Homo sapiens: one gene and its partners. The protein of the gene in region 1 interacts with the protein of each later gene in a pairwise test. Each region holds a gene or a part of one and is shown on either strand. Other genes may lie near its edges. The genes, in order: CFAP36, FCHSD2 and SNTB2.

What was found.
Region 2: the proteins of CFAP36 (region 1) and FCHSD2 interact in a two-hybrid assay, tested with the Homo sapiens proteins (one study listed by BioGRID and IntAct).
Region 3: the proteins of CFAP36 (region 1) and SNTB2 interact in binary tests that used the Homo sapiens proteins (3 or more experiments, as listed by UniProt).

The regions. Positions count from the first base shown.
Region 1 is NC_000002.12:55,535,063-55,545,995, reverse strand, and holds the end of CFAP36 (cilia- and flagella-associated protein 36), read right to left. Parts: intron 10,285-10,933; coding exon 10,233-10,284; intron 8,514-10,232; coding exon 8,411-8,513; intron 2,059-8,410; coding exon 1,922-2,058; intron 1,777-1,921; coding exon 1,627-1,776; intron 1,090-1,626; coding exon 988-1,089; 3' UTR 917-987; downstream 1-916. UniProt on the Homo sapiens protein: May act as an effector for ARL3.
Region 2 is NC_000011.10:72,838,319-72,849,251, forward strand, and holds part of FCHSD2 (F-BAR and double SH3 domains protein 2), read right to left. Parts: intron 5,423-10,933; exon of another isoform or gene 5,215-5,422; coding exon 5,131-5,214; exon of another isoform or gene 5,011-5,130; coding exon 4,833-5,010; exon of another isoform or gene 4,524-4,832; coding exon 4,303-4,523; coding exon of another isoform or gene 4,299-4,302; intron 3,266-4,298; coding exon 3,136-3,265; intron 2,642-3,135; coding exon 2,559-2,641; intron 557-2,558; coding exon 473-556; 3' UTR 1-472. UniProt on the Homo sapiens protein: Adapter protein that plays a role in endocytosis via clathrin-coated pits. Contributes to the internalization of cell surface receptors, such as integrin ITGB1 and transferrin receptor.
Region 3 is NC_000016.10:69,236,456-69,247,388, reverse strand, and holds part of SNTB2 (beta-2-syntrophin), read right to left. Parts: intron 1,788-10,933; coding exon 1,574-1,787; intron 1-1,573. UniProt on the Homo sapiens protein: Adapter protein that binds to and probably organizes the subcellular localization of a variety of membrane proteins. May link various receptors to the actin cytoskeleton and the dystrophin glycoprotein complex.

The DNA of each region.
Region 1 (10,933 bases):
CAGGCTGGAGTGGAGTGCTGTGATCATAGCTCACTGCAGCCTTGACCTCCGGGGCTCTGGTGATCCTAGCACCTCAGCCTCCCAGGTAACTGGGACTACAGGTATATGCCACCATGCCTAGCTAATTTTTTGTATTTTTAGTAGATACAGGGTTTTGCCATGTTGCCCAGGCTGATCTCAAACTCCTGGGCTCAAGCAATCTGTCCACCTCGGCCTCCCAAAGTGCTGGGATTACAGTGTCAGCCACCGTGCCTGGCCCCTGCATTAAAATTTTTCAATGACTTGACACTGCTGGTATTACAAAATTTAAAATCCAGAGCTGGGATTGTGCAACTGCACGCCAGCCTGGGCAGCAGAGCAAGATCCTGTCTCTAAAATAATTTTTAAAAAAATTAAATCCTCACATTCCCTGTAAGACTCTGCACTGTCAGTCCCCCACCTGTCTCCAATTTCATATGCTAACCGTCTCCACTCATATATATACTCCAGTTTTTCAGTATATGCTTTATTTCCTGCTGCAGAACCTGAACTGTTCCTTACCTATTCTTTGTGTAATTAACCTTCCATTCAGCTTAAAGAGGCTTAGCCAGCCCTGCTCATAGGACACTACACTTTGCCTTTCTAACAGTTTCGTCTTTGGGCCCTCTCCACTAGCCCCATGAAGGCAGTGACCCTGTCAATCTAGTTGACTCCTGTATCCTTAGTGCTTAGCACAATGCCTGGCACAAACAGTAGGTAACCGAGTTTGAATGAATGAACATACTATCAACTAGTTTCCTTCTATACCCTCTTTCCAAGGGAAAACATCCAGGAATTTGTATTAAACTAATCAGTATGAGTAGCTGCCTTCCCTACTGTCCTTTACCTAAAGTGTTTAAGATATTTGGATTTACAAAAGTGTTCGAAACTAAAAGGCTCAGTGTAAGGACTAAATAATTTATTTTTAAGACAATTTGAACTTCCATTTTGTTAAATTGTTCTTAATTATTACTTATTAATAACTTCTTCTTTGAGTTTCTCTGCAAGCAATCTCCTCTTTAGTAATGTTTGCTTCTCCTCTGCTGTCATTTCTGGTTTCTCTGTCATTTCCTGAAAAAAAAAGAAAAAATTGGCTACAGTATGAAATAGGGTAATTTGTCTAAAATTCCCAACATACTGCCTCAAATGAACAAAAATCGGGGGCACCTTCTTGTGGGACGGAGGGAGAGACAGACATAGACTAGGTTTCCTAAATCTCTTCTTCGTAAAGTCTCTTCTTGGAGAACCCCTCTGGGAAGTGGTGGCTGATGTGCTCTATGATAAAGGTGGTACTGATGCTGCTCTATGATAAAACATTTCAGAATGCCCAGGTGAAACAGACCACCAACCCTGACATACTCAGAGAAGGGCAAGTAAAGAAACAGCATAAGAAAAAAATGTATAATGACACCGCTATTTTCTGCCTCAAAAAATCCTTATCACAACAATTTCACTTCCTAGAAAAGACTTAGCAGCTACTGCACTAGGAGGTGATTAATATGAATGGGTCTGCAAGCAAAATTTATTAGAGGCTTTCTTGCACATATTCTGATTTTGATAGTTCCACCACCAGATTTGTAAATCTTGACATATTAAGGCTAGCCATACCTCTACCTCCCCAGTGGGTTTTCCTTTCTGCTCCATATTTTGTATCTGTTTAGTCCTCATATCCTTTCTCATGGACATCAACTTATCTCTCTTCTGCTTGAGATAGTGTTCTCGTTGCCGAAGTTCTTCTGTTCCAAGTACTGATAAGTTCTGGGTCAAGTAAGAAAAGGAGCTATCTAAATTCAAATCCATTTAGTAAGTAGCACAGATGCCCACTGAGTGATTCAATTCGAAGTTTGATTTCCCAGTACCTTGTCATTTTGCTTATAGTTCTTAAGTGATGTCGTTTACTTACTGCTATTGGTCCTTCAATGCTCGCATGCTCTAAGCCAGGAATCTTCAGGTCTTTTTGTGGGAGGGAGGAAGTTTCAGACCTTTCCACTTTTCTTCCCAAAGGTTCTATTGACTGATTAGCAAAATGCATTTTAACTTCTGGCAATAAGTAGACAATAAGAGCAATTAGAATATTATGAGAAATATTTTAAGTGTTAGGCTAGGTTTACCGAAATGAGCTAATGTTAATAATACTTGTTTTTCCTCATAGTCATTCAGTCAACATATATTCAGTGCCTATACTGTGCCAGCCACTGGGTAAGAACAGTAAACATCATGTCTCTATCCTTAAGGAGCTTGGAACTACAGTTTCTCACCTACTTCTCAACAAGTACCATGCTTCTGCTGTTTGTACAGTACTATAGCTACAAAAAGCTAAAATCCTTGTCTAAAGATTAGAACTACACTATAATATAAGATTGCCACATAATCCAAATAAACAGTATACTAATCCCTTACTACAATGTAATTGGTTTCCAAACTTTTGCTTGCATGTAAAAAGTCACCCTATACTTTCAGAACAATTAATGTAAAACTATAATTTTTTGTATTGCAAGAGTGCATGCCAGTAATGTCAATAATTTTTGTTTATAATTATGTATTGAAGATAACTATAAACCTGCCAGTGCATTATGAAAATGTAAAGATTTCTAAAGCAAGCAGAACTTGGAAGCACATATAAACATGAGCACTAAATACTTTCCAGCCATTTGGTGACTGTGCCAACCAAGAGAGAGAGTTAACATTCTAATTGCTCCTCTGAGCCATTTTTTATTATAAGGTGATTGTTTTTAAAAAGATAAAACATTTTCAGTGTAAATACATGGGCTATGAAAGAAAGCACACTGAGACAAGCAAAGACATTAAAATGATGCTAAGATCTAAAAGCATGATGGGAAAACATGGCACACATGTCTAAATGATTAAAATTTTTGCCACACCTGGTTGATCCTGCCAGTTAAAAAAAAAAAATACCTTGCCAGCATACATACTAAAACAGAAAACAGAATTTTGTCTGTGCAAGAAACTTGACAACAGACCACTCCTCTAGCAGTGACCAGACTGACTACAGTGCCAGAGAGGTTGAAGGAAGAAAAGCTCTCCAGACCCTTGGACAATAAGGGAAATCTCCATGGAAAAGATAAGCTGTAACCAGCACTCCAAACCAACCTAGACAGGGAGCTACATAACTAACAGAAATAAAGATAGAGGTAAAACACCGCTGTTATTACTGAGAGTGACGTTAGCAGAGGTAGGCTTAGCCCTCAGTGGACTCACAGAACTGGAGAAGGGACAGTTCAAATAATTCCTGAGGAGGGGGGAACCCATACATATAAGCATTTATATTCCACTCATGTTCTTTCTCTGGACAGTTCTTGCCTTGGGTTTGTTAATTATGAACATACGTATATTCTCAGGCCTAGAAAGGAAAGTACTTGAAGCCAAATACTTAGCTTCTCTAATTTCTAGGAAGGGAAGATCAGAAAGCCAGAAAACCTAAAGAAAGATCATCTCATCTCTGGCAAATCTGCATCAATCTGAGAAAAGACACTATCCATTGCTGGCAGGAATGAGGGAAAGACAGGCAAAAGGACAAAGCAGAAGCTCAAACAACTTCATGATTCTTCCAAACTCAGGTCTTCATACTGGGCTTCCATCACTTTGTACGAAGTGATTCTCTGAAATATCAGATATGCGCATTTGAAAAAAATTATTTTAAAAATTGAAATCATTACTTTTGAGATCTACCATTTATGGTGTACCATTAATGTGTACAACTGAATTATATGTGGTTTGAGATCAAGTTTTCTATAGCTTCACTTAGATAAGAAAGCAGACAAAGCAAATTTATTCAATTTATGTTAGACACAAGATTTAAATAGTGTATGTACTTAGGTGTATATAAAACAAAGTTAATTTGGGTCAGCAAACTAGAGCACAGACAAACCTAAAGCAGGAGCTTTCATATATATCATTAAAATGAGGCTATTTCTCCTTACAATCTGTAGCATATATATAAAAAAGAAATGGTTTGACTTGGTACAAAGAAGCAAGGTAACTTCACAGATCTGCTTCTGATTCAATATACTCCTGTTTTTCTGTCAAATAAGAATCTAACTCCTTAAAATTAATGGGTGCTCTCAGTAAACTAGGAATAGAGAGGAACTTCCTCAACTTCATAAAGAGTACGAAAAACTCTAAAACTTAACACAATACTTAATGGTGAGAAATTAGAAGGTTTCTCACTAAGATCAGAAACAAGGCAAAAATGTCCCCTCTCTCACCTTTCTGATTCAACATCATACTAGAAGTCCTACCTAATCCACTAGGACAAGAAAAGGAAATAAAAGGTACACTGATTGGGAAGGAATAAATAAAAATGTCTTTATTTGCAGAACACATGATCATCTATGTAGAAAATGCAAAACAATTGACAGAAAAACTGAAATGAATAATTATATAGCAAGGTTACAGGATACAAATTAATAACAGTTTATCACTTTCCTTTATACCAGTAATGAATAAATGGAATTTAAAATTAAAAATACCATTTACATTAGCACAGCACCCCTAAAAATGAAATACTTAGATATAAAATATAACAAAATATGCACAAGATCTATATGAGGAAAACTACAAAATTCTAATGAAAGAAATCAAAGAACTAAATAAATGGAGAAATATTCCATGGTTTTTATTTTATTTTATTTTGAGATGAAGTTTCGCTCTTGTTGCCCAGGCTGGAGTGCAATGGCACGATCTTGGCTCACTGCAACCTCTTCCTCCCGGGTTCAAGCGATTCTCCTGCCTCAGCCTCCCGAGTAGCTAGCATTACAGGAACTTGCCACGATGCCCAGCTAATTTTTTGTATTTTTTGTAGAGATGGAGTTTCACCATGTTGGCCACACTGGTCGCAAACTCCTGACCTCAAGTGATCCACCACCTCGGCCTCCCAAATTGCTGGGATGACAGGTGTGAGCCACTACTCCTGGCCTTTTTTTTATTTTTTTATTTTATTTTTTTGAGACAGGGTCTCACTCTATCACCTAGGCTGGAGTGCAGTGATGCAATCTCAACTCACTGCAACATCCACCTCGTGGGCTCAAGCAATTCTCCTGCCTCAGCCTCCCTAGAGGCTGGGACTACAGGCGTGCACCACCATGCCTGGCTAATTTTTGTATTTTTTTTGTAAAGACAGGGTTTCGCCAAATTGCCCAGGCTGGTTTTGAACTCCTGAGCTCGAACAGTTTTCCCGCCTTGGCCTCCCAAAATGCTAGGATTACAGGCATGAGCCACCATGCCCGGCCTATTCCATGTTTATGGACAGGAAAACTCAATGTCAAGATGTCAGTTCTTCCCAACATGATCTACAGATTCAATACAATATCAATCAAAATTTCAGCAAGTTATTTTGTGGATACTGACAAACAGATTCTAACATTTATATGGAGAGGCAAAACACCCAGAATAGCCAACACAATATTGAAGAACAAAATTGGAGGACTGACACTACCCAACTTGGAGACTTCAAACTACAGTAATCAAGAGAGTGTGGTATTTGCAAAAGAATGGAGAAATAGATCAACAGAACATAATAGAGAGCCCAGAAATAAACTCACATAAATATAATCAATTTATCTTTGACAAAGGAGCAAAGGCAATACGGTGAGGAAAGGAAAATGGACATCTGAAAGAAAAAATATGAATCTAGACACAAACTTTACACCCTTCACAAAAAATAATTCAAAATAGATCACAGACCTAAATGTAAAATGTAAAACTATAAAAATCCTAGAAGATAACATAGGAGGAAATTTAGGTGACCTTGGGTATGGTGATGACTTTTTTGATACAACACCAAAGGCACACCCTATGAAAGACATAATTAATAAGCTGAACTTCATTAAAATTTCTGCTATGTAAAAGACAGTATCAAGAGGATGAGAAGACAAGCCACAGACTGGAAGAAAATATTTTCAGAAGACACATCTGATAAAGGACTGTTATTCAAAATATACAAAGAACACTTAAAATTCAACAATAAGAAAATGAACCCAATTAACAAAAAGAAAACAAACAACCCAACAAATATAATGGGTCAAAAACCTTAACAGACTCATCACCAAAGAAGATACATAGATGACAAGCATATGAAAAGATGCTCCACATCATGTCATCAGGGAAATGCAAATAAAACAACAATGAGATACCACTACACACCTACTAGAATACTCCAAATCCAGAACACTGACAACACCAAATGCTGGCAAGGATGCAACAAGAACGCTCATTCACTGCTATGGAAATGCAAAATGGTATAGCCGCTTTAGAACACAGTTTGGCACTTTCTTACAAAACTAAACATACTCTTACTGTAAGATATAACAATCATGCTCATTGGTATTTACCCAAAGGAGCTGAAAGCTATGTCCAAACAAAAACCTGCACACTGATGTTTATAGCAGCTTTATTCATAATTGTCAAAACTTGGAAGCAACCAAGATTTTCTTCAGCAGATAAATGAATAAACAAACCGTGGCACATCCAGACAATGGAATATTATTCAGCACTAAAAAGAAATGAGCTACAAAGCCATGACAAGACATGGAGAAATCTTAAATGGATTATTACTAAGTGAAAGAAGCCAATCTGAAAAGGCTACGTACTACTGTATGATTTCAACTATATGACATTCTAGAAAAGGCAAAACTGTGGAAACAGTAAAAGATCAGTGGTTGCCATGGGCTAGGAGGTGGGAAGGATGAATAGGCAGAGCACAAAGAATTTTTAGGGCAATGAAACTGTATACTACATGATACTATAATGGTGAATGCATGTCATCATACATTTGTCAAAATCCACAGAATATACAATAGCAAGAGTGAACCCTAATGTAAACTATGCTCTTTGGTTGGTAATGTTGTGTCAAGGAAGGTTCACCAACGTAACAAATGTACTACTTTTGAGGGGGTCGATAATGGGAGAGGCTAGGCATGTACTAGGGCAGGGACTATATGGGGGAAATCTCTGTACCTTCTGCTCAATTTTACTGTGAACCTAAAACAGCTTAAATTAGGCATATTAAAGAAAGGTGTTCTCCAACTTACATTAAAAAATTAATGGGTAAACATCACACTAATCTCAATTATAGAAGTTCTTCTAAACTAAGGTTTAGAAGAATATATTTAGTGTCAGAAGACCAAGGTAAGTCATAATTTCACCATTGAAGAGTTCGGTGATCTTGGACAAGTCGCTCAGCTTCCTTGAATTTCTTTAAAAAAAAAAAAAAGAAGGGATGGGTACAGTGGCTCATGCCTATAATCCTAGTGCTTTGGGAGGCTGAGGCAGGAGGATCACTTGAGGCCAGGAGTTTGAGACCCAGCCTGGGCAACACAGCAACACCCGACTCAACAAAAATAATTTTTTTAAAAAAGATAAGAGTAGCCAGGCACAGTGGCTCATGCCTGTAATCCCAGCACTTTGGGAGGCCAAGGCAAGCAGATCACCTAAGGTTGGGAGTTCGAGACCAGCCTGACCAACATGTAGAAACCCCATCTCTACTAAATATATAAAATTAGCTGGGCGTGGTGGTGCCTGCCTGTAATCCCAGCTACTCAGGAGGCTAAGGCAGGAGAATCACTTGAACCCAGGAAGTGGAGGTTATGGTGAGCCGAGATCACACCATTGCACTCTAGCCTGGGCAACAACAGCAAAACTCTGACTCAAAAAAAAAAAAAAAAGATAAAAGAAAAACAAGGATTATAATATCTACCTCACAGAGTATATTTTTTTAATTGAGAAAAGGACATTTATTTAAAACCATAGGAATCCATAATAAAATGAACTGAATTCATGACCATAATTTCTGTTTCAGAATTACTTGTTTTCTTATATAGAAAATCAGTTCATATTGAGAATAGATTTGCCACATGTTGAAAAGGTCATCCACTAGTATTTCCTACAAGGATTCCTATAAATTTTGATTTCAAAGATATGATTTCTGACCAAATATCTGGACAAAATGGCTACCTCTTATTTTCTAGCTGTACTTAATTCATTGGAAAAGAAATTTAATATTATCTTTCCAAGTTCAGCTTCTCACTAACAAATACCATACAACTGTAAGCATGGAAGAGAATACCAAATGTTATGTGAACCTCTCTTGTAAGCTGCAGTCATGCACAAAGGCTAGTTACTCCCTCAAGGAGTTTTGCTCTCTACTCTGGGTTCCAGGCTTTACACGGAAACTTGAGGACTATACGCTCTCTTTCAGGTCAGTATCTCGTCTGCAACCTCTTTAACCAAATTCACAAAGAACGTTAAATACCAAAGACATTCAATACTCCCTCCCAGGGCTTTTGAAGTTAAATAAGTATGAGAAAGTGGCACATTCTATATGGTGTTTATGTATTCATATTATTAGAGAAAGTTCAGTACACCTCAACCTTACCTGAGGGTGGGTGTGCAAAATGTTCACCATCCCCTTGGGAATTATTCATTATTGCAGCTTCACTGGAATGCACTGTGGGCTCTTCTGTTTTAGCCTCTGATAACTTCAGGATTCCATAATACAATTTTTTAAAAAACACACAATTTAGATTCATTTTAACTAATTCACTACCTAAAGGATCCAAAGATATTATAGTTTTCTTTTTTTTTTCTTTTGAGACAGAGTCTCACTCTGTCACCCAGACTGGAGTGCAGTAGTGTGATCCTGACTCACTGCAACCTCCGGCTCCTGGATTTAAATGATTCTCATGCCTGAGCCACCTGAGTAGCTGGGATTACAGGTGTGCACTACCACGCTCGGCTAATTGTTGCATTTTTAGTAGAGATGGGGTTTTGCCATGTTGCTGGTCTCGAATTCCTGGCCTCAAGTGATCCACCCACCTCAGCCTCTCAAAGTGCTGGGATTACAGGAGTGAGCCACCACGTCTGGCCTCTTTAAAAGAAAGTATAAAGTATACACTCTTATAAGAAAGTATATACTTTTGGCCGGGCACAGTGGCTCATGTCTGTAATCCCAACATTTTGGGAGGCCAAGGCCAGCAGATCACCTGAGGTCAGGAGTTCGAGACCGGTCTGGCCAACATGGTGAAACCCTGTCTACTAAAAGTACAAAAATTAGCCAAGAGTGGTGGCAGGCACCTATAATCCCAGCTACTGGGGAGGCTGAGGCACGAGAATCGCTTGAGCCTGGGAGGCAGAGGTTGCAGTGAGCCAAGATCACGCCACTGCACTCTAGCCTGGGCAATACAACAAGACTCAGTCTCAAAAAAAAAGTATATACTTTATATATTAAGAAGTATAAAAAGTTGGCCAGGCACAGTGGCAGGCAGGTGGATCACATGAGGTCAGGAGTTCAAGAGCAGCTTGGCCAACATGGTGAAACCCTGTCTCTACTGAAAATACAAAAAATTAGCTGGGCGTGGTGGTACACGCCTGTAATCCCACCTACTTGGGAGGCTGAGGCAGGAGAATCACTTGAACCTGGGAAGCAGAGGTTGCAGTGAGCCGAGATTGCGCCACTGCACTCCAGCCCAGGTGTCAGAGTGAGACTGTCTCCAAAAAAATAAATAAATAAAAGAGTATAAAAGGTTGTTCTGGCCGGGCATGGTGGCTCACACCTGTAATCCCAGCACTTTGGGAGGCCGAGGCGGGCAGATCACGAGGTCAGGAGTTTAAGACCAGCCTGATCAACGTGGTGAAACCCCGTCTCTACTAAAAATACAAAAATTAGCCAGGCGTGATGGCGCACGCTTGTAATCCCAGCTACTCTGGAGGCTGAGGCAGGAGAATCGCTTGAACCCCGGAGGCAGAGGTTGCAGTGAGCCAAGATCACACCACTGCACTCCAGCCTGGGTGACAGAATGAGACTCAATCTCAAAAAAAAAAAAAAAATGTTGTTCTGTGAGTTACCAGGACAAAAATAAAGAAGGAGAAAAAAGTATAAAAAGTTAAAAACAAATGCTTAAACTTGCCAAAAAAAATGACTACTCTTGCTTATATGCATGTCCTGTAAGATTAATTAGTACTATGTGGTGTTTGTACTATATACAGTTAAGTATATATAGTACTATATAATATGGTGGCCAGCAGTAATGCACGACATACATAGAATTATTGATATATTAATATTATTGGTCAATATTTACATTGTACTTAAAATTATGTAGTTCCACATAAGTATAAATTTTAATAGTAAGATCTAGGTGTAAACTTAATAAGAGATAACAGCAATAAAATACTTCTGTTATATGTTCTGTAGGCACCTGTTTTTTCCTCTTCCTTTCTTCTTCCTGGTCATATTCCTCTTTTGATTTTCTGAAATATACAAAAATAAGATAAAAAGATAAATTTCCTTTTTTGGTCAAAGAACAAATATTCAACTAAGCAACATGCTAACCTAAGCTTACAATAAAAGGCACATTAGACACAAAGATGGAAGATAATCAAGCCTTGCTCTAAAGTGGCTTACAGTCAACTGGGAAAGACATACATAGGCATACAGCATAATACAGTTAGTAACACAAAATACAGGTCTACCCATTTCTTCTAGAACTCTGAATGAACCCTAGCTGAATAAAGATCAACAGATTTGAAATCCTGAACCCAAATTTGAATGGCAAATCCCATTAATAAGGACTTCAATCACCCTCTTTAGAGTGATCAATTACACCCCTCTTGATAAGAGCCATTATACCCCTCTTGATAAAATGTCATTGTTCCAATGGCATCTGAGCTATCATCAAGCACTTGTGATACCACTGTGCCAAAGCCCATCAACTTTTGTAAACTGTTCACTGAGACAGTGCTTTTCGAAAGTAACCAAGGTCAACTGTTATACATGTTCATAACTAAGTTCTATTACTTACACAGTAGTATATCCCCTCAAAAGCTCTTGGAAAATAAAATCTAAAAATACAGTGCTGACCAGTTTTCAGGCCACCAATCAACCAACACAACCAGTCCA
Region 2 (10,933 bases), on another chromosome or scaffold:
CTTCTGTTTCCTTATGTAGCCAACATGATCTGATTAATTCTCAATCAGATGAGCAAAAGCCACTTGAAGAAAGATGAGAATCTTTGCCACATCCTTGTGGTCACAGTAATATACTGTACGAGTGCACATGATCAGTAATTTAGGGACTGTGCCCTGGAATGAGGCCTGTTCTTGAGTCTCATATAAAAACAGACCACTGTTAGGCATGAGGGCTGCCCCCCTCTTTGCTCCTAGGGTCCGCTAGGATTTGTGCTATGGTAGGAGAAATGACATAGAAAATGACAACAAAAAAAAAAGGCACGAAATATTCAAAACGTGGGAGGAGTCTACCAGGCCACCCAGTCACACATAATCCTCCTTGTTTTTTGCTCTGTTCAAGAGTCATCATCATGCAAAGGTGCCTAAAAAACAAGACTGGCCAAACTCCAAGCCTGGCCTTGATTGTAGCAGTAATGGATGGGCAAGCCCATCATCACACCAGTGTGATTTCCACATCTTCAATCTTCTCTGCTGGCCTTCGGTGATTCTGTGTAGGTGGAGGGGGAGCTGCCCGGACCTGAGCAGGAAACAATTACGTAGTTTGTCAGTCAGTTCCTGACTCAGTATCTGAAGCATCCCCAAAACCTAATCACTCATCTGTCCAAGGACATGGGCACCCTAGGGGTCTCAGAAATGTTGTGAGCACGTGCTTTCAACCTAGTCTTCACTATTTCCTACACTGAGAAGCAGTTGTTCTCAATGAAATATCAAGCCCACAAATCAGCTTCTTGCCTAGGCTAAAAACCTCATGGGCACAAGTCCTATGACTAAGATCCTAGCACATCCTCCAAAGCAAAGGTCTGGCTGGAAGCAAGGGAGAGCAATGCTTAGAGAAATGAAACATTTCAGTGTGTCTTGGGTAGAGAGTTACAAAAGAGAAGGCTAGAAAGGTAGGCTAGGGTTAAGTTGTGAAGGGCCTTGTTAAACCATGTTTAAACATCTGCTTTAAGAAGAAAAAAATAAATCTGTGCTTTATTCTGTAGGCAAAAGAGGAGTTTTTGGTGGATTTTAAGCAATATCAGATCTGCGAAAAGATGACTCAGGTAACAACTGGAGAAAGGATCAGAGGCAAGCAAGAGTCCAAGTAAGAAGGCAACTTAGGAGACTTTTGTAATCCTCTGAATGAGAGTTGACAATAGCCCAAACGAGGGTACTGGCAGTAGGGGAAGTAGAGAAGTGGAAAGATTTGCGAGCTCTCTGCAAGGTATACCTGGCAGGATTTGGGAATGACTGTGGGAGGCAGGGGCAGGAGGTATTAAGAATGATGCCAGAACACCAGTAGGATGGGGGTTCCATTTACCAAGATAGGCAATATGGGAGAAGGAACATGTCTGGAAGGGAACATAACTCATTTTTGCTGAGTTTTGGGGATCTGGGATATATAAACTGAGATATCCACACATCTGAAGCTCAAGAGAAGAGATCGGATTGGCAGTTATAAATCTGAGACTTGCTGGCATATAAATGGTTATCATAGCTGTGGAAGTAGATGAGGTCATTCGGCAAGAGTGCGTTCAACAACTTCAAGAGAAGCAGCCCAGTGACAGAACCATGAGAATTATCAGCAGAGACAGGTGGCGGCAAGGCTGCAAAGGTCCACAGAAAGGTAGGACCAGAGAGGAAGAAAGCAAACGAGGCAAATGTAGAGAAGCACATCAGCCCACTGCTCTCTCTTCCCACTCTTACCCACCAGTCCATCTTGCCACCACTTCTTTCTTGGATGCTGCTCCAGCCTCCTAATCGCTCCCTATATCCTTTCTGCCACCCTCCATCCATCCGCCTCTTAGCTGCCATAGCGATGCTTTAAAAATGCACCAGCCACAACACTGTCCAGCTTACCACTTTACAATGGCTTCCTGTCTCATTTGGGATAAAGACTCAAGTCCTTAAGAAGGCACTCAATACATATTTGCTGAATGAATGAAGCCAAAAGAAGCCAGTGGTAAAGGAATGGTATCAAAAGCTAATAGGGGTCAAGGAAAATAAAATTGCAAAGTATCCGACTGGATTACCGTGCAAGTTATGACCTTGGAGTACAGTGGTGGGTGGAATGCAGATGGCAGTAGAGTGAAGGGTGAGGAGAGGTAACTTTGCAATAATATATTCACCCGGAGAATAAACGCTCTTTAAGGCCATGAAGTTAGCTTATTATTTCATCTTGGTATTCCTCAAAGAGGCAAATAGAGGCCTGGAAAATTAAATGCTTACTGAAAAAAGTGTTTCACAATTAGCCCGCTTTAATGCTCATAAAGTTTGTTCTATTCTAAATCACTTTCATAGCCATCATCTTGCAATCTCACTGTGGCTCAGTGAAAAAAGTTCCAGTGTAGATTAAATGTCCCGAGATGAGTTGATTTCTATGGCCTTCCTTTTCAATAGCTCTTTTTACCTTCCCAAACCCAGTTCATCCTTGTTTGGCATAGTCAGTAACAACACAGGGGCCACGGGGAAACATTAATTCCTTACTTTCAATTTGGAAGAACTATGCATTCGATAATCCTGCAAGATCAGAGACTTACAGGTCGCAGTTTGCCATATGAGGTCTCAGGAGTATGCCTTGATGCCTGTGAGAATCCTGGTGACTCAGCATGAAGGCTTTTTTCTAAGGGAGAAAACCAAAGAAGCTCATTTTACTTGAGTTGTTGAGCAATAATGCTGATGCAAGGCTGGCATGGTGGCTTGAGCCTGTAATCCCAGCACTTTGGGATACTGAGGCGGGAGGATTACTTGAGGCCAGAAGTTCAAGGCTGCAGTGAGCTATGATCCCACCACTGCACTCCAGCCTGGGTGACAGAATAATACCCTTTGTCCAGAAAAAATACAAAAATTAGCTGTGTGTGGTGGTGCATGCCTGTATTCCTAGCTACTAGGGAGGCTGAGGCAGGAGGATCACTTGAGCCCAGGAATTGGTTGCTATGAGCCGTGATCATGCCACTGAACTCCAGCCTGGGTGTCCAGCCCAGGTGACAGAGACTCTGTCTCCAAAAAAAAAAAAAAAAAAAAAAAAGCAAATGCAGTTTTTTTTTGCCCTTCAGGCGAATATGTAGGTTTCTGAAGTGAAAATGCATTTAGACCCATGCCCAGGAGAACCCTTACCGTTTGCTGAAGGAGACCGGGGAAAGTACAGGGAGCTCCTCTTATCTGGGCTGGGGTAGGGGCTGCTGGGAGGCTGGTCGTACAACGGCAGTGGAGGCAGGGAGGCGTGTGGCTTGGGGGAAGGAGAGATCTGCAGCAAAGGGAAGCGAGGTTACCCGGTGCTCCCCTCCAGGAAGGAGAGCCTGGCTGCTTCTCTGACTGCTCTGTACTCATGCCTTTTCTCTAAAGCTAAGCTGATTGTTGAAACTTGTCAACCTCATTAGAGGCAACTGAGCATTAAATAACCACCTCAAGCTCCAATTTTGCATTGCACTTCACTTTTTCCTCTTACAGATCTCATCACATTACTGATTTTAGTTTATCTTAAACAGTTATCAAGTGAAGCTACTCTCTAGGGTTCTATTGAAAATGTACCAAATTAGTCAATTCAGTAAACTTAGCAAAGAACAACAACAACAAAAGGAACAAGTTGGATTTTTTGGGGTGAAGATAAAATACTTTGCTGAATTTCTGACTTCCCCAGGTTTTGTGCATGTTAGGCTAAGGGGTCACAATCACCACGCAAACAAGATCGGCAAACACGTTCCTTCTTCCTCTACCTGTCTGGCCTGCAGTGATAGATCCCTGAGGGGACAAACTAAACTCTGACTGAATTAGAGGTTCCTTTAAAGGCTGTTTCCCTGTGATGAACTAAGTCTAGGGTCACTTGAGTGGGGATTAGGGGCTCTGGCAGGCTCATTAATTCTCTGAAATAGACTGGCAGGACCTGGACTAGGCAAGGAGGCTCTGACAGTGAGGGAGAGAGAGAGCCAGCTAAGAGTTTTACTACGTAAATTAACCACAGAGCAACGCCTTCCCTCTTCGGTTTGTTTCTTTCTCTCCACCAAAACGATCTTTGGTATGTCACATATAATTTGGCATTTTGGTTAACCAATTCAAGGAAGAGAGAGAATGTGGGAAGATGGAGGTGTGGGAGGATGGCCACATTCCACAAGGGACTGACTGACAAGTCTCTGGTTTCCCAAATGCAGTTGTGCAGACACTGGCAACCAAGGACCGGTGAGGGTAAGGCAGAGACTGCAGCCCACTTTTGTGTGGATCCACAGACCCTTTGGGAGCAATTTTCTTTAAACATCTTTTAATTCAACTGTCTCCCCTCTCAGGTACCTGAATCTCTCTCATCCATGGAGTGTCACCATTTTCTGAGGCTGAAAGTTCTTCCACTAGCACCGATGGGAAAACTCCAATACGCCCATTGAATTCCCCTTCCCAGAAGCCATCATCATCTTGGTTTTCTTTGTTCAAGATACGGATTATTGCTCCCTCAGGAAAAGATAACTCATCATCTGTCTGGCCCTCATAATCATAAAGTGCTTTCACAAAACATACTAGGGAGCAAGAGAAAAACAAATCTGGTAAGATAATTAACAGCCGGTTGCTTTTGCAACCACCCCTATGCTCACATGACAACTAAAAGAGCATCATACAGAATAGGATTAAAGTTGTAATTTTTTTACTCACTGATGAATGATTAACTTTAGGGTTCTACTGTGCAGGACAAACGTGACCATATAAAGAAAAGCATATTATAGGACAGGAGGAAAGTTGTGCTTTTTATCCTACTGAAGGCTTACTCCAGGGCAATACAGTTTAGGTCAAACGTGACCAAATAAAGAGTGCCTTGTTTCAGTCTTTACCACTGGCATCTCCGTTGAGGCTGCCTGAAACGAGTTCTGCTTCCGTGGAATTGCTGGACGTGTGTGACCGACTGTCCAAAGCGGCCAGGGACTGCAGCATGCTCAGGAGGCTGTTCGAGGTGGGAAACTGTAGGTACTTTTCTGGCACATAACCCACTTGGCCAACTTTATTTCGAGCCTGGGTAAAAGACATGTGACAAAACAAGTTTACACACACAATTTAGACAGGGCACAACAAAGACCAAAACAAACTCCTAAAAATGTCACAAGAAAGGGCGATATGAGCAAAGGAATATACCTTTACCCAGTCTTCCATATCTCCATCTTCAATCACTTCTAACACCTCATGTTCCTCAATGGTCAACTCATCTGGTTGAGAAGCCTGCAGTGTAGGATGGTCATGGACAAAATTAAAAAGGTTAGATAAGGAGCAGATGTGAGCTGATCATGACAAAAACTGGGGATCAAAATATTGAAATGATTTTGAGAAACATGTTGAACATAAAAATTTAAATGCTGTAAAACTTTCATAATGAGGTGAAGTTTTACTTTAAAAAACTAAACAGAATAAAACCATAACAAAAACTCAAGAAACTGAATCCTCAAGAGGCAATGACGTTCAATGAACAGAACATGTAAGCCTGGGCAACACAGCGAGACCCCCATCTCTACCAATAAATAAATAAATAAGTAAATAAATAAATAAAATTAGTCAGGCATGGTGGAACATGCCTGTAGTCCCAACTACTTGGGAGGCTGAGGTGGGAGGATCGCTTGAGCCTGGGAGGTTGAGGCTGCAGTGAGCCATGAGTGAGCCACTGCACTCCAGCCTGGGCAACAGAGCGAGACCCTGTCTCTAAAAAAACAAACAAAAAAAGAGAGCACTTCCTGGAAGTAGAGGACCTGGGTTCCAACTCCAGCTTCTGTATCAAGTTATTCAACTTGATGCCTCCATTTCTTTGAAATGACAATCCTGCCATTTTCTGGAGGATGTGAGTCAATGTGGGATGGATAAGCACAGAACTGTGATGATTTGGGAAGCAAAGGCAAACGAGAAGGCACTGAATTGGAACTGCTACCAGAGGGCTCCCATGGACAAGCATGCAGTGAAAATGCAAAGAACTATGTACGTGAATTTGATGATAGTGGGTGCAGTGCCTAGGATTGATCTGGAATCACTGTAAAGCAGTGGCCAAAAGAAAAAAATTGTAGGAAAGGAAATGATTGAGATCAGTCATGGTTTGGATTTCTTATGCTCCAACTTAACTGTGTGGAGACTGAGCTGATCCATTTGCGTGCTACCGTACAAGCTGCTAACCATAATGGTTTTATTATCCCTGACAGCAGCAATCCACCAGCATCAGCCACCCACATGTTGCCCTTGAGACTGCCAAATCTGTAAACGCTCTGAGGCTCCACAGAGGGGCTGGAAAGTCCGTGTGGCTTTGCTTCCTAACAGTCTTGCCTGTCATGTGTAATAGACAGGGGCCTGCTGGCTTCTGGCTCTCTAGAAAACAGTCTTAAAAGCTTTCCCCAAGTCCCAAGATGGGTTAAAACCATCACCTAAAACCATAAAGTTTTTAAAATCTCACAATCTCAAAATGTAAAATTAACTCCAAGTTACACAAACAAAAATAAGGCAAAAAAGGGGTCATTTTCAAGATCAATTTCCCATTTTATGAACATTAAAACATTTCATCAAAATCCAGATTCTGGATGTTGCCATAGCTCCCTGAGACAGAAAAATAATATTGAGGAAAAAACCCCACTCATTTACCCTTGATAGCTTTTCCAATGGAATTCCTTCACTACTCTGAAACCACACTATGCCTTGAATATGCCAGCAAAAGGCATTTTTGTAATAAAAATGTTTTTCATGGCAAGACCTAAAAAGTATCAACACGACCAGACGTTAATGTATGTGACAGCAAACCAGGGAGGTAGTACACTTTTAAATAAACTGCTGCCCTTATAAAAAGCTATGGAGAGGCTGAGTGAGGTGGCTCACGTCTGTAATCCCAGCACTTTGGGAGGCCAAGGTGGGTGGATCACTTGAGGCCAGCAGTTTGAGACCGGCCTGGGCAACATGGCGAAACCCTGTCTCTATGAAAAATACAAAAAATTGGTGGGTGTGGTGGCACGTGCCTGTAATCCCAGCTACTTGGGAGGCTGAGGTGGGAGGATCACTTGAATCAGGGAGGCAGAGGTTGCAGGGAGGCAGAGGTTGCAGTGAGCCGAGATCACACCACTGCACTCCAGCCTGGGTGACAGAGCAAGACCCTGTCTCAAAAAAAAAAAAAAAAAAAAAAAACAACAACAAACAAACAAAAACCATGGAGGTCCATGCAAGTTTTTCAACACTGCAGCACTAGTTGTCCAATGTAAGCAGACACTAGCTTGATCATCCCATCCTAAAGCAGTGATGACCAATTCTTCCACCTAACAAGGTCAAGTTCTTTGCATGGCTATCAAGACCCTGCAGAGTTTGGTCCCTGTGGGCCTCTTGACGCTTTGGCCCCTGCACACTATTTCTATTCTCTGAGCATACCATGTTCTTCCTTGCCTCTGTGCTTTTATAGGTGTTCTTCCGTCCATCAGGCTCTGTTCCCTCTTTCCTATCTGATGAGCAGACTTAGATTACTGTGGGTTTAAGTCCAGCTTCAGTATATTTTTATGGGCAAGTGACTGTAAGATACCTTTGAACCTCAGTTTTCTTTTTTCGTACTAGAATATAAGCTCAATGAGGGCAAAGATTTTTGTCTGTTTTGATCAATGCTATATCCCAGAGCCTAGAAAAGCCCACAGCACTGATACATGGAAGGTGCTCAAGCACTATTTGTTGAATGAATGGGGTGTTTGATAATATCTTCCTCATAGGGTTATTGAAGGGATTACAAATAAATAGATAGATAGATAGATAGATAGATAGATAGATAGATAGATAAGTAGTTACGATTACTTTTGACTTGAGACTGAGCGCATATGTTTTCCCAGACTACTCATGATGAGTAAGCTGCTCCTCCTTTTGCTCTTTTTTTTTTTTTTTTTGAGACGGAGTCTCACAGTGTTGCCCAGGCTGGAGTGCAGTGGTGCCATCTCGGCTCACTGCAACCTCTGCCTCCCAGGTTCAAGAAATTCTCCTGCCTCAGCCTCCCAAGTAGCTGGGATTACAGGTGCACACCACCATGCCTGGCTAATTTTTTGTATTTTTAGTAGAGACGGGGTTTCACCATGTTGGTCAGGCTGGTCTCGAACTCCTGACCTCGCGATTCGCCCGCCTTGGCCCCGCAACGTGCTGGGATTACAGGCGTGAGCTACCGTGCCCAGCCCCCATTTTGTTCTTAAAAGGCTCTCTGAGCGTCCCCATAACACTGACTACCATGATGCTCTAATGAGTTTGTCCTTGTGAGCTTCCTACTAGAAATAATTAGGGACTACATTTCTTCTCACTTACCCCAACTAAAGACAGTGAGCAGTAAATGGTTATTAAATACACACATACTCTCATACTGTCTCCTTAAGTCCTAGTATCCAGTGACAACCAGAGCTCCGTTTCCACCAGTATCTCTCCAAATTTCCTGTATTTCTTTTAAAACAATATGTTTTTCCTGATTATATCATACATGTTCATCGTAGAAAAGCTGGAAAATATGCATAATTGAGCTCTTACGGTACATACAATTTGGTATCCTACCTTTTAATTTAATATTAGGACATAAGGGTTTCTTCTTATATAGAAAAACTCTTGATGAAAATTTCAGTAAGTTTCATAATATTATATGTTATGGCTATAGTATATGAATGTCTAGTTTAATTATTCTCATTGAACTGCCAAATTTAAATTTTTTTAAAATTTATTTTTTAGAGGCAGGGTCTCACTCTGTCACTCAGGCTGGAGTGCAGTGGTGTAATCATGGCTCACTGCAGCCTCGATCTCCTGGGCTCCAGTGATCCTCCTGCCTGAGCCTCCTGAATAGCTAGGACGATAGGCATGTGCCACCATGCTCAGCTAATTTTAAAATTTTTCTGTAGAGACCAGGTTTTTCTTTGTTGCCCAGGCTGGTCTCAAACTCCCGGCTTCAAGTGATCTTCTCGCTTTGGCCCCACAAAGTGTTGGGATTACAGGCATGAGCCATTGCATCCAGTCATGAGCTCTATTATCCTCACTGATGTCTCTATCAGAATGAGGTCAAGGGAAGGATTCATTTGTTCATGCCTTCCATCATTCAAGTATTCATTCCACAATTATTTACTAATGACCTACTACGTGCTGGGCATTGTCCTAGGGGCTGAAGACACACAGACAAGGTAAACATACAGAGACAAAACTTCTCCCTTCATGGACCTTTAGCGGGGAGTCAAAGAAATATGAAAACTAAGATTAAGTTTGGCTGGGCAGAAGTGCCATACATTATAAAGCAGTACTATATGAAAGGACATTTTTGTGTCCAAAACTTTTCTATATTATGATTTACTTCCTTAGGATGGATGCTAATAGGGTCAAAAGTTATGAACATTCTTAAGGCTTTTGACTCTAACCTTTTTTTTTTTTTTTTTTTTGAGACAGAGTCTCGCTCTGTCACCCAGGCTGGAGCGCAATGGTGCGATCTTGGCTCACTGCAACCTCCTCCTCCTGAGTTCAAGTGATTCTCCTGCCTCAGCCTCCCTAGTAGCTGAGATTACAGGCGCCCGCCACCACGCCCAGCTAATTTTTGTATTTTTAGTAGAGATGGGGTTTCACCATGTTGGTTGGGCCAGTCTTGAACTCCTAACCTCAGTGATCCACCTGCCTCATTTTCCCAAAATGTTGGGATTACAGGCGTGAGCCACCATTCCCGGCCAACTCTAACCATTAAATATAGTTTCTTTGTTCTCACCAGATTATTCGAGGCCTCCTTTTTGGTCTGGACTATAAGAATTATGATTAGGCTTAAAGTCAGTCCCTCTGTATCCTAATCTGTCCTCTAGAATATCTATACCATGACCAGGTTAGCTTCTTAAAAGTCCAATCTGATTTCAGGCCATCTAAGGATCTTCCTAGCCAGGATAAAAACCAAACCTCTAAGTCTGGTACCCAAGGCCCTTTACTATCTGACAACAAACACCTTTATGCACAGCCCCTCTGTTCTCCCACTCCTACACCACTGAATTTAACATTTCCTGAACACCCCACACTCTCATCACACTCTGTCTCTATACCTGCTGTTCTCTTTGCTTAGAAGGCTCTTTCCTCTCCCTACCTTCTCACTGCATCTAGAAAGGTCTTAAATCATGACCTACTTTAAATGCCACCTCATCTGTAAAATTTCTCCCAATGATCCAGGTAGAATTAGTGGCTCTACCTTTACTATAAATCTTTTCACACTTGTTCTATTTTCCAGTTTAATATTTAACCCTTCATAGATTGTCCATTCCTAGAGGGGAGAGATGTCATATTCATTCTGGCATCCCCCCAGTGTATCACATATTGGGCACTCTATATGTTTATTCAATGATTAACTGACTAAATAGATGTTCATAGTCTATTTAACGCAGGGATGTGCCTGGGATATGCCAACAGAGGGAATGTTGAATGAATGTGAACTGTTTAAAATCACTCAGACACTTAGGAATCTCTCTATTTAAGGAACTTAAATTTTAGTTCTGGGACGTTCAAGTAAATATAATGGGAGGTGGTATCAGGAAACAATTCCAATGCTAGTTTTATAATACCCTGTAATACCTTTCCAAGTATCTGAGAAGATGATTTTAAATTTTCAAAAGATTATCAAAACGATTTACATTGGAAAAAAATGCTAACACTTTCAATGAACAGGAAGTATTATGAATTTAAATATAAAATGAAAGGATGTTAAACTCAAAACAAGTCTGGGAATCACTGATATTGAGGTTACCAAACACTGCCACCTTTTGGCTACACAGGGATGTGGCGGAGGAGTGAATCTGGTGCATGACAGGTGGATTCTCTCTCCAGGACCTTCCCTTCTGATAGCCTTCCGCATTGCCCCTTCTCACACATGCCTCCACCAGAACAGGGGCAAGAGAAGATTCATGTATTCACGCCTCCCTTCCAACATTCATGTAGTCATCCCACAATTATC
Region 3 (10,933 bases), on another chromosome or scaffold:
ATCTTATTTTTTCCACTAATCTCTAACCTAACATTCGGTCTACCAGTGCCACTTCATTGAGTTAATGAAGACAAAGTTATAGAACACATATGATTATAGAACTAGGAGGGACATCAGAAATTATCCAATCTAATTTTCTCATTTTGCAAATGAGGAAACTGAGGTCAAGGGAAGCTAACTTGCCAGAGTCACACTGCTGGTTGATTCAGCCAGAACCATAATGCAGACCTCTAACTCTATACTACCTACAGTATAAGGAATTTCCATCTAAGGAGATATTTAAAAATTTATCTTTAACAAGACTTCTTTTTTTTTTTTAATATATATATATATTTTTTTTATTATACTTTAAGTTTTAGGGTACATGTGCACATTGTGCAGGTTAGTTACATATATATACATGTGCCATGCTGGTGCGCTGCACCCACTAACTCGTCATCTAGCATTAGGTATATCTCCCAATGCTATCCCTCCCCCCTCCCCCCACCCCACCACAGTCCCCAGAGTGTGATATTCCCCTTCCTGTGTCCATGTGATCTCATTGTTCAATTCCCACCTATGAGTGAGAAATGGATAAATTCCTCGACACATACACTCTCCCAAGACTAAACCAGGAAGAAGTTGAATCTCTGAATAGACCAATAACAGGAGCTGAAATTGTGGCAATAATCAATAGTTTACCAACCAAAAAGAGTCCAGGACCAGATGGATTCACAGCCGAATTCTACCAGAGGTACAAGGAGGAACTGGTACCATTCCTTCTGAAACTATTCCAATCAACAGAAAAAGAGGGAATCCTCCCTAACTCATTTTATGAGGCCAGCATCATTCTGATACCAAAGCCGGGCAGAGACACAACCAAAAAAGAGAATTTTAGACCAATATCCTTGATGAACATTGATGCAAAAATCCTCAATAAAATACTGGCAAAACGAATCCAGCAGCACATCAAAAAGCTTATCCACCATAATCAAGTGGGCTTCATCCCTGGGATGCAAGGCTGGTTCAATATACGCAAATCAATACATGTAATCCAGCATATAAACAGAGCCAAAGACAAAAACCACATGATTATCTCAATAGATGCAGAAAAAGCCTTCAACAAAATTCAACAACCCTTCATGCTAAAAACTCTCAATAAATTAGGTATTGATGGGATGTATTTCAAAATAATAAGAGCTATCTATGACAAACCCACAGCCAATATCATACTGAATGGACTTCTTTCAATTATAAAGTAATACATATTCATAGTGAAAAAAGTAATAACAACATTACAGAAAGACATAAAAGGAAGAAAAGATGCCCCCTCTTTCTTTCACCCCTTTAGTCTTATTTGACACCCTAGAGGTAAAGCCATTAACAGTTTCTTGTGTGTCTGTTCAAAATTTTTTCTACACATATACATGTATATATGTAGAATAACTTAAAATGTGGAACCCCAAAAATGCATCTCTCACCTCAGACAGATGTTTTCCTCTGTATAACTGAGTTAACAGAGTCATATAATACTGCAACATGTCCTTAAGTTTGTAAAGCTGTAGGTATGATGTTCTTGTTAGGTACACCTCACCTGTTTTCCAGATCCGGCATGCTTAGGTTTCTAGCAGCAAAGCACATTTTGAGAGGGATGATCTTCCTGTCCTTGGTGCTGTTCTGGTGTTTTGGCGAACCAGAGTCCTCACTGCCACTAAAGCTTGGTGACTGGGGGGCTGCACCTTCCCACGGCAGATCTGATACTAATGATGGCTTCTTGATATATGGTGTTACTTCTCGGATGAACTTGACTATGAACAAAAAAATCAAAGAAGAAGGTTAGTAATTTTGCTTCCTATAATAAATGATAACTAAAGTATTCACATACATGCTATATCTATAACAAAGTGGAGGAAAGAGCTGGGCGCGGTGGCTCACTCCTGTAATCCCAGCACTTTGGGAGGCCGAGGCGGGTGGATCACTTGAGGTCAGGAGTTCAAGGCCAGCCTGGTCAACGTAGTGAAACCCCATCTCTACCAAAAATACAAAAAATTAGGTGAGCGTGGTGGCATGCGCCTGTAGTCCCAACTACTCAGGAAGCTGAGGCAGGAGAATTGCTTGAACCCGGGAGGCGGTGGCTGCAGTGAGATTGTGCCACTGCACTCCAGCCTGGGCGACAGAGCAAGACTCTGCCTCAAAAACAAACAAACAAACAAACAAACAAAAAATGGGGGAAAAAAGTAAGTTAAAGAGCCATGAATCCCCTGGAGATAGATTCTAAGACAGACCCATCTAGGCTTTAGATGATTCAACCTTTAGAAACTTCTCCATACTTCTACCCACTGGTTCCCTGTCTTCTCAAGCCATATAGAACAAACTTAATCTCTCTTCTACATGAGAACTCTGTAATTATCTGAAGACAGATTTTTCTCTTCTCTCTCCTCCCCATACTAAGCTAAGTATTTCTATTTCCATTCAACTCAATCAACTTTTATTAGCTACCTACCAAGTGTTGGGAATTAGGCTAGCCAGTAAAGACACAAGGGCAAATGAGCCATGGATTCTATCCCTCAAGGAATGCCCAGCCTTGCAGGGGAGACAGCTATGTAAACAGGCCATTACAGTTCTTAAAATCAAGTGCAAAAATAAAGTATATTCAAGATAAGGTATGATCTAATAAGCACAAAGCCAACTCAACTGATCCCCCTTGCTTGTTCAAAATACTCTATTTCCATTAATGTGGCCCCAAATGAAAATCAAGCTTTTAGTAGATAGGAAGCTTTTTTAAGTTCAAATTTAAAACTCATAAAATACTTGTTTTACTTCAGTCATGACTACAATTACTGTCACTCGAGGCATGGTGTTCTTGTTTCAAAAACTAGACAAACTGGCTGGGCACAGTGGTACACACAGTTTCTCCTGTGAATAGGTAATACATGCACATAAAACAAAACTCAAGAGGTATAAAAGGTTTTATAATAAAAGTCCAGATTTCTAGCTACCCTGTCTCCATTCCTAGAGGCAACCATTCAAAGAGATGCCTGGTATGCTAAGCATGTATGAAAATAAACACATACACATGCGTGTATATCTGATCATACATATGGTGGTACATTATGCTTACCGTGCTGCACCTTAGTTTTTTTATTTAATAAGGTTGATAGTCTTTTATAGGCCTAATAGTTGATAGCTCATTCTACAGCATGATGTGGTCATAGAGATGCCTTTGGAATCAAGAAGACCTTGTTCAAATCCTAACTGTGCTTGCTATTCAAAGCTATGTGACCGCACTTAACTGTTCTGAGGTCCTCATCTACAAAATGGGAGTAACACTAAGCAAATAAAAATTTCAGGCACATACTAAACATTCAATAAATACAGTAGGTACCTTTCTTTTTCCTTCCCTAAATTAGAAAGTTAGAGAAGAGTTAAAAAATTTTAATGGTAATCAGTAGAAGAGTTAAAGTTATTTTCTTATACGTTATTAAAAAAGATTTACTGAAATTAAGTATAATAATAAAAAATATAACAATTCCAATGCTAGAATTTAGATGTAGTATATCTCTGTGCTTTTTGTGCATAGTTATAATACACGTGCTTCTGGGTAGCTGCCTCAGGTCACCAAGGAGATTTTTTTACCCTAGAAAAATCAGCAGGAGTGCAGTCAGTATAACCCTTGAGCAGCTGACTCAAGCATTTCAATACATACTTCAGCTTTATGCTTTGAAGGACTTTGGCAGAAATTCCTAAGGTTTCCAGTTACTGCAAATGGCAGAGGCATGCTTTTTGAACATTTAAGGCAGTACACTATTGGGCTACCAACTGGAGGAAATTAAAGACATTCTAAATGAATTCTTGAATAATATAGTGGTTAGAAAAGAACCCTTAACGATCTACTCAGTTCATTCAATCACACAGTAGCATCACTGAACTGATTACTACACACATCCTAAAACAAAAACAGACATACACATACAATTTATGTATTGCCTTATTAAAAGAGCAATGAATTTTATCTGAGTTGATGGCAATGCAGTCCATACCCCCATCTAATTAGCCATCCAGAATGGCTGAAGAGCTGTGGATGGACATCTGTTTCTATGTTTGGGAATGGCAAAAAGTTAACAGTCTTCTGTTTCAGTCCTATGTTAAGGCCTTAACCTGGACACGTGGCTGGATAAGCAGAGCCTTTACACCCCCACATGGAGCTTTCAGTTCAACTCAGAATCCACAACATATTTCAGAATCATTTCATTTTTCCTGATAGTTGAAGATAATCCTCAAAATAATTTAATTAAACACTGATGTTTACAAACTGTTTTGAGTGTTCAGATGCTGAAGCTAATTTTCTTTCTTCCATTCATGTATCCCTTTTTTTTTTTTTTTTTTTTTAAGATGCAGTCTCACTCTGTCGCCCAGGCTGGAGTGCAGTGGCACAATCTCAGCTCACTGCAAACTCTGCCTCCTGGGTTCACGCCATTCTCCTGCCTTAGCCTCCCCAGTAACTGGGACTACAGGCGCCCGCCACCACGCCCGGCTAATTTTTTGTATTTTTAGTAGAGACGGGGTTTCACCGTGCTAGCCAGGATGGTCTCGATCTCCAGACCTCGTGATCCACCCGCCTTGGCCTCCCAAAGTGCTGGGATAACAGGCTTGAGCCACTATGCCCGGCCTCACGTATCCCTTTTACTGAACGTGAAGGTGGGCTTCCTCCCACCCCAAAAGCATTACTGTGATCCCTTCTCTTCTTTAGAGTGACAAAAACACATACATGTACTGCACACATGTACCTGTAAAGATGTCTGGAAGGAACTTAATCAAAATATCAATAGTGCTTATATACAGGTGTAGGATTGCATTTTTTTCTTTATGTTGTTCTGTATATTTAAAATTTTTGTTAAGTCCATAGTATTTATTTTAAAAACGTATTTAAGAAATGAAGAAAACTTATTCTGAGACCTTGTTCAAACTCTATCTTAATTTTATTTTTGAGACAGGGTCTCACTCTGTCCCTCAGGTTGCAGGGCAGTGGCACAATCATAGCTCACTGTAACCTCAAATTCTTGGGTTCAAGTGATCCTGCCTCAGCCTCCTGAGTAGCTGCAACTATAGGCACACACCGACACATCTGGCTAACTTTTTAATTTTTTGTAGAGACAAGGTCTTGCTATTTTGCCCAGGCTGATCTCAAACTCCTGGCTTCAAGCAACCCTCCCGCCTTAGCCTCTCAAAGCGTTGGGATTACAAGCATGAGCCACCACCCAGCCTGTTGCTCAAACTTTAAACATGAAAGACATGTAAACGGAAATCTTGAGGCTTCAAAAACTATAATGCACTGGATAGGATCCAAAATCCAACTGATTCTTACTGAATTCTAAGCTCTAATGAATAAGGTTATGAAGAGTTCCATGTTTGGGGCATGAGGCAGCATCTGATTTTAAACTGAATGCAAGTGGCTTCTTTTTTTTTTTTTTTTTTTTTTTTGAGACAAGGTCTGGCTCTATCACCCAGGTTGAAGTGCAGTGGCATGATCTCAGCTCACTGCAACCTCCGCCTCCTGGGCTCAAACCATCCTCCCATCTTAGCCTCCTGAGTGGCTGAGACTACAGGTGCACACCACCATACCCACCTAATTTTTGTACTTTTAGTAGAGACAGGGTTTTGCCATTTGCCCAGGCTGGTCTCTAATTGGTGAGCTCAAACAATCCACCCGCCTTGGCCTCCCAAAGGGCTGGGATTATAGGTATGAGCCACTGCACCCCACCTGTTAAGTGGCTTTTTTTTTTTTAGTAGAGACGGGGTTTCACCATGTTGGCCAGACTGCTTGCCAACTCCTGACCTCAAGTGATCTGCCCACCTCGGAGTCTCCCAAAGTGCTGGGATTACAGGCTTGAGCCACCACGCCCACCCTGGCTTTTTAAAGCTTATCTAGGCTGGTGCTGAGCATGGTGGCTCACACCTGTAATCCCAGCACTTTGGGAGGCCGAGGTGGGTGGATCACGAGGTCAGGAGTTCAAGACCAGTCTGGCCAAGATGGTGAAACCCCATCTCTACTAAAAAATATAAAAATTTGCCGGGTGCGGTGGCAGGCACCTGTAATCCCAGCTACTGGGGAGGCTGAGGCAGGAGAATTGCTTGAACCCAGGTGGCAGAGGTTGCAGTGAGCTGAGATTGTGCCACTGCACTCCAGCCTGGGCTAGAAAGTGAGGCTCCATCACAAAAAAAAAAAAAAAAAAAAAAAAAAGCTTATCCAGGCCGGGCACGGTGGCTCATACCTGTAATCCCAGCACTTTGGGAGGCCAAGGCGAGTGGATCACTTGAGGTCAGGAGTTCAAGACCAGCCTGGCCAACATGGCGAAAGTCCATCTCTACTAAAAATACAAAATTAGCCAGGTGTGGTGGCGGGCACCTGTAATCCCAGCTACTTAGGAGGCTGAGGCAGGAGAACTGCTTGAACCCGGGAGGCAGAGGTTACAGTGAGCCAAGGTCATGCTATTGCACTCCAGCCTGGACAACAAGAGCAAAACTCCATCTCAAACAAACAAACAAATAAACAAAACGAAACGAAACAAAAACCTTATCCAAAAAGGATACATAATAGGGCAGACACAGCCTACGGCTGCAAACACACATATTTGGATAAATGGATCAACCTCTTTTATAAACATCAACTTCTCATATAATCGTTATGTTCCTTTTTATCTCTAACTCTTACCTTTTCCATGCCCCAACTGGTGATCTTTACTATGAGTTTAAGTGAAACTAAGTTAGTCACACAACATTATTTCCCCTGCTTTTGCAAGCAAGTTTGTTCCTGGATTATTCTCAGAGTGGAATATCTGGCTGTGCATTTTGCACAGGAATGAGTTATGTTGACAGTCACTGTTAAAGTATTCTCTCAGGAGGATTCTCTCCAACCTCATCCCAAGCTCTTCTCTCAAGTCAGGAGGCTGATAAATGACCACCAAAAACACGAGGAAGGAATTGCTTTGCTTTGAGTAAAAAGCCTTTTACATTCTCAACTTGCAGGTGTCTTTCAGCTCAAGTCTCCTGGCCATTTGGGGTTTGAGTAGACTGCAGTCTAGAGTCTGGTGACATGAACCTTGAATGAGTTCAGAGTGACTCTTTCACTCTTCCTCTTCATTCTAAAATAACATAGCAAATTCACTAATTTATTGAGCTCCTACTATATACCAGGAACTGTTTTAGGCATGTAGAATTATTAGCCAGTGAATAAAATATGCAAAAAATAATAATGTAATTAATAATTTAATGAAATTCTAGAGAAATGAAAACTTACATTCACACAAAAGCCTGTACACTAATGTTCTTAGCAGCTCTATTCGTAAGTACCACAGCTGGAAACAACCCAAATTTCCTTCAATGGAAGTGAATGGATAAACTGTGATACAGCTATAGAATAGAACACTATTCAGAAATAAAAAGGAACAAACTATTTATAACTCAGTAACTTGGATGAATCTGAAAGGCATTATACCAGTCTCAAAAGTTGTATGACCCCATTATTGAAAAGAAAAAAATATATGATGAAAAATTCAGTGGTTTCTAGCCAGGCGTCGTGGCTCATGCCTGTAATCCCAGCACTTTGAGAGGCTAAAGTGAGCAGATCACTTGAGGTTAGGAGTTCAAGACCAGCCTGGCCAACATGGTGAAACCCCACCTCTGCTAAAAAAACAAAAATTAGCCAGGCATAGTGGTGCACGCCTGTAAGCCCAGCTACTCAGGAGGCTGAGGCAGGAGGCTTGAACCCAGGAGGCAGAGGTTGCAGTGAGCTGAGATTGCGCCACTGCACTCCAGCCTGGGCAACAGAGCGAGACCCTGCCTTGACTAAATAAATAAATAAATAAATAAATAAAAATAAATTCAGTGGTTTCTAAGGGTTAGGGGTGAGAAGGGATATGATTATAAAGGGATAGCACAACAGAGTTTTCTGAAACCATGGAATGGTCCTGTATCCTGATTGTGGTGACAGTTACAAGAATTTATGTATGTGTCCAGATTCATAGAACTGTATACCTTAAGGGGAAAAAATTCAATTGTACAGTATGATAATTACAAAATAAAATAAGTAAATTATACAGTATATTGGAAGATGTTAAGTGTAATGGGAAAATGAAACACAGCAAGGGAAGGGGTCAGAAATGCTGCCCAGGGTGTCAGTTTGTAAATTTTAAATATGGTAGTTAGGGTAAGCCATTAATAAGATGTTTGAACAAAGACTTTAGGAGATGGGGGAGTTGGCCATGCAAATATCTGGGAGAAACATTCCAGCCAGGGAGACAGTGTTAGGACAGTAACAGGAGTTACTAACAGGAGTGTTAGACAGTAAGGAGACCCAGAGTAACTGGAGCTGGGTAAGTGAGGGGGACAGAGTAGTAAATGGGGTCACAAAGGTAACGGGGCTGGGAGGCAGACCATGTACGGCCTTTTAGGTCATGGCAAGGACTTTGGCTTTTATTCTGAAACAGGAAGCTATTGGGAGATTTTCAGGAGCAAGTGACCACTATGTTGAAAATAGAATAAAAGAAGGCCAAGGCAAAAGCAGGAAGACCAGCTGGCAGGTTAACAGGGATGAGAGATGATAGGAGTTGGACCAGGGGAATAGTAGTGGAGGTGGTGAGAAGTGGTCAGATTCTACATCAGATTACATAAGGGGGTGGCAAAAAGAAGAGTCAAGGATAATGTCAAGATTTTTGTCCCGAACAAGGCTAGAAGGATAGCGTTCCCCTTGACAGCTTTAGAAGAAAGATCAGGAACTTGAGACATACATTAGACAATCAAGTCTAACAGGCAGCTAGATATATAAGTCTGCAGTTCAGGAAATGGGTGTAGGCTAAAAACATAAATTTGGGAGCTATTAGCATATAGTTGCTATTTAATGCCATGAAACTGGATAAGATCACTGTATCAGTCAGGATCCCAGCAGGAAACGATAGTAAGGGATTTAATAAAGGGACAACTTATGAAGATGTGGGCAGAGTGCAGGGAAACCACATGGAAAAATAGAGTGTAGTATCCCATGGCTATTAGCTGTTTCCACATGTAGGCCTGAAGGAAATAGGAAAGAGAGTGGGTACCAAACCCAGAAGAAAAGAGCCCTATAGAGACCGATGTGAGAGGAGCAGTGACTTTCAGTCAATTCAGCCAGATTGCACTGACCTGCGAATTGGGGGCCAAGGGGATAAATGCTCCAACCTCACCCTCCTCCTTCTTTCCCTCCAATGTCCTATTGGGGCTCTACATTGGCCAAACCCAACAAAAACCAAAGGCCAAGGAAGTCTGCTGATGTTGTCCACGCAGGTCAGCGTCCGGGACAGATGGCATGTAGAGAAGGAGCGGACCTAGAAGAGCCAATGGAAGACTTCCAGCACAAGCAAGGAAGTGAGTACGGAAGAGAAAGCAGACACTCCACTATTAAAGGGCTGGGGAGAAAAGAAGGAGGTAGGCAGAAGATCCACGAAACACAAGTGCTCCATAGAAATACTGGCTTAACAGGCATGGTGGCTCATGCCGGTAATCCCAGCACTTTGGGAGGCCGAGGCAGGAGGATCACCTGAGGTCGGGAGTTCAAGACCAGCCTGACCACATGGAGAAACTCCGTCTCTACTCAAAAAATACAAAATTAGCCAGGCATGGTGGCACATGCCTGTAATCCCAGCTACTCGGGAGGCTGAGGCAGGAGAATCACTTGAACCGGGGAGGCGGAGGTTGCAGTGAGCCAAGATCGCACCATTGCACTCCAGCCTGGGTAACAGAGCAAAACTCTGCCTCAAAAAAAAAAAAAAAAAGAAAGAAAGAAAGAAAGAAAAAAAAAGAAATGCTGGCCTAAAATAGTACCAAGTTTATCCAAACTGAAAAAGCACTCCCTTGACCTGATGAACCCAGACTTGGCTCTTCCCTCCCTTCACCATTCCTTGAAAATCAAAACAAAACAATTTCTGCTTATTGTTTCTATTTTCTCCTTTCACTCCTTAATCTCTTCTGAATTAAAACAGCATTCTAAAGGGTTATCAATGTTTTCTTACCCAATCCAAAGGCCCTTTCTCAATCCTTATGCTCGACCATTCCAATATGTATGGCAATGCACTCTACCAGCTGTTTTGTATTCCTTCTTTCTGGCCATTTATTTTTTAAGTGCCTTTTTTCTCCTCCTATCCCTATAATCCAGGTGTTTCCTAAGGCTCTGATTTTAGCACTTCTCACTTTATCCTCTCATCCCTGTCAGCTTTCTGCTGGATCTCCAGTTTGACACAGCTCTCTAGAACCAATATCTCCTGTTGGCCCCAATCCCACCACCTGGGTGCTGCCCCATCCTTCAGATTCAACATATCCAAACAAGAACTAATCTTCATTATCCTTTATCCCCTGCTCCTGTGCTCACTCTTGTAGTTATAAGGATTAGCATCATCATCTTTCTCGCCACCCAGGATCTAAACCAGTACTATAGTTAGCCTGGTGTGAAGCACACTCTTCTGTATTTTATTAAAGGTTGCCCAGGTGGTTAATTCTCATGCTCGATCAAGGTTTGGAAAATGCTTCTCTAAACCTTTGCAGACCACTCTCTGTCCCTACCCGCTACATCTAATCAGGTGCCAAATCACATCTGAAATTGTTCTCTAGCCTACCTACTCCCCTCAGTTTCCACTGCCAACATGCCTTGGTTAACTCAGACCAGCCACTGTAGTGGCTGCTGCTGCTGCTGCTTTTTTTTTTTTTTGTAATTGTAAAATATACACAACATAAAGTTTACTATTTTAACCATATTTTTTACATGTACAGTTCAGTGCATTAAGTATTCACATTGTTGTGAAACCACAACCACCAGCCATCTCCAGAACTTTTTCATTTTCCCAAACTGAAACTCTATACCCACTAAACAATTACTCCCCATTCCCCTATCCCCTGGCAACCACCATTCTACTTTCTGTCCTTATGA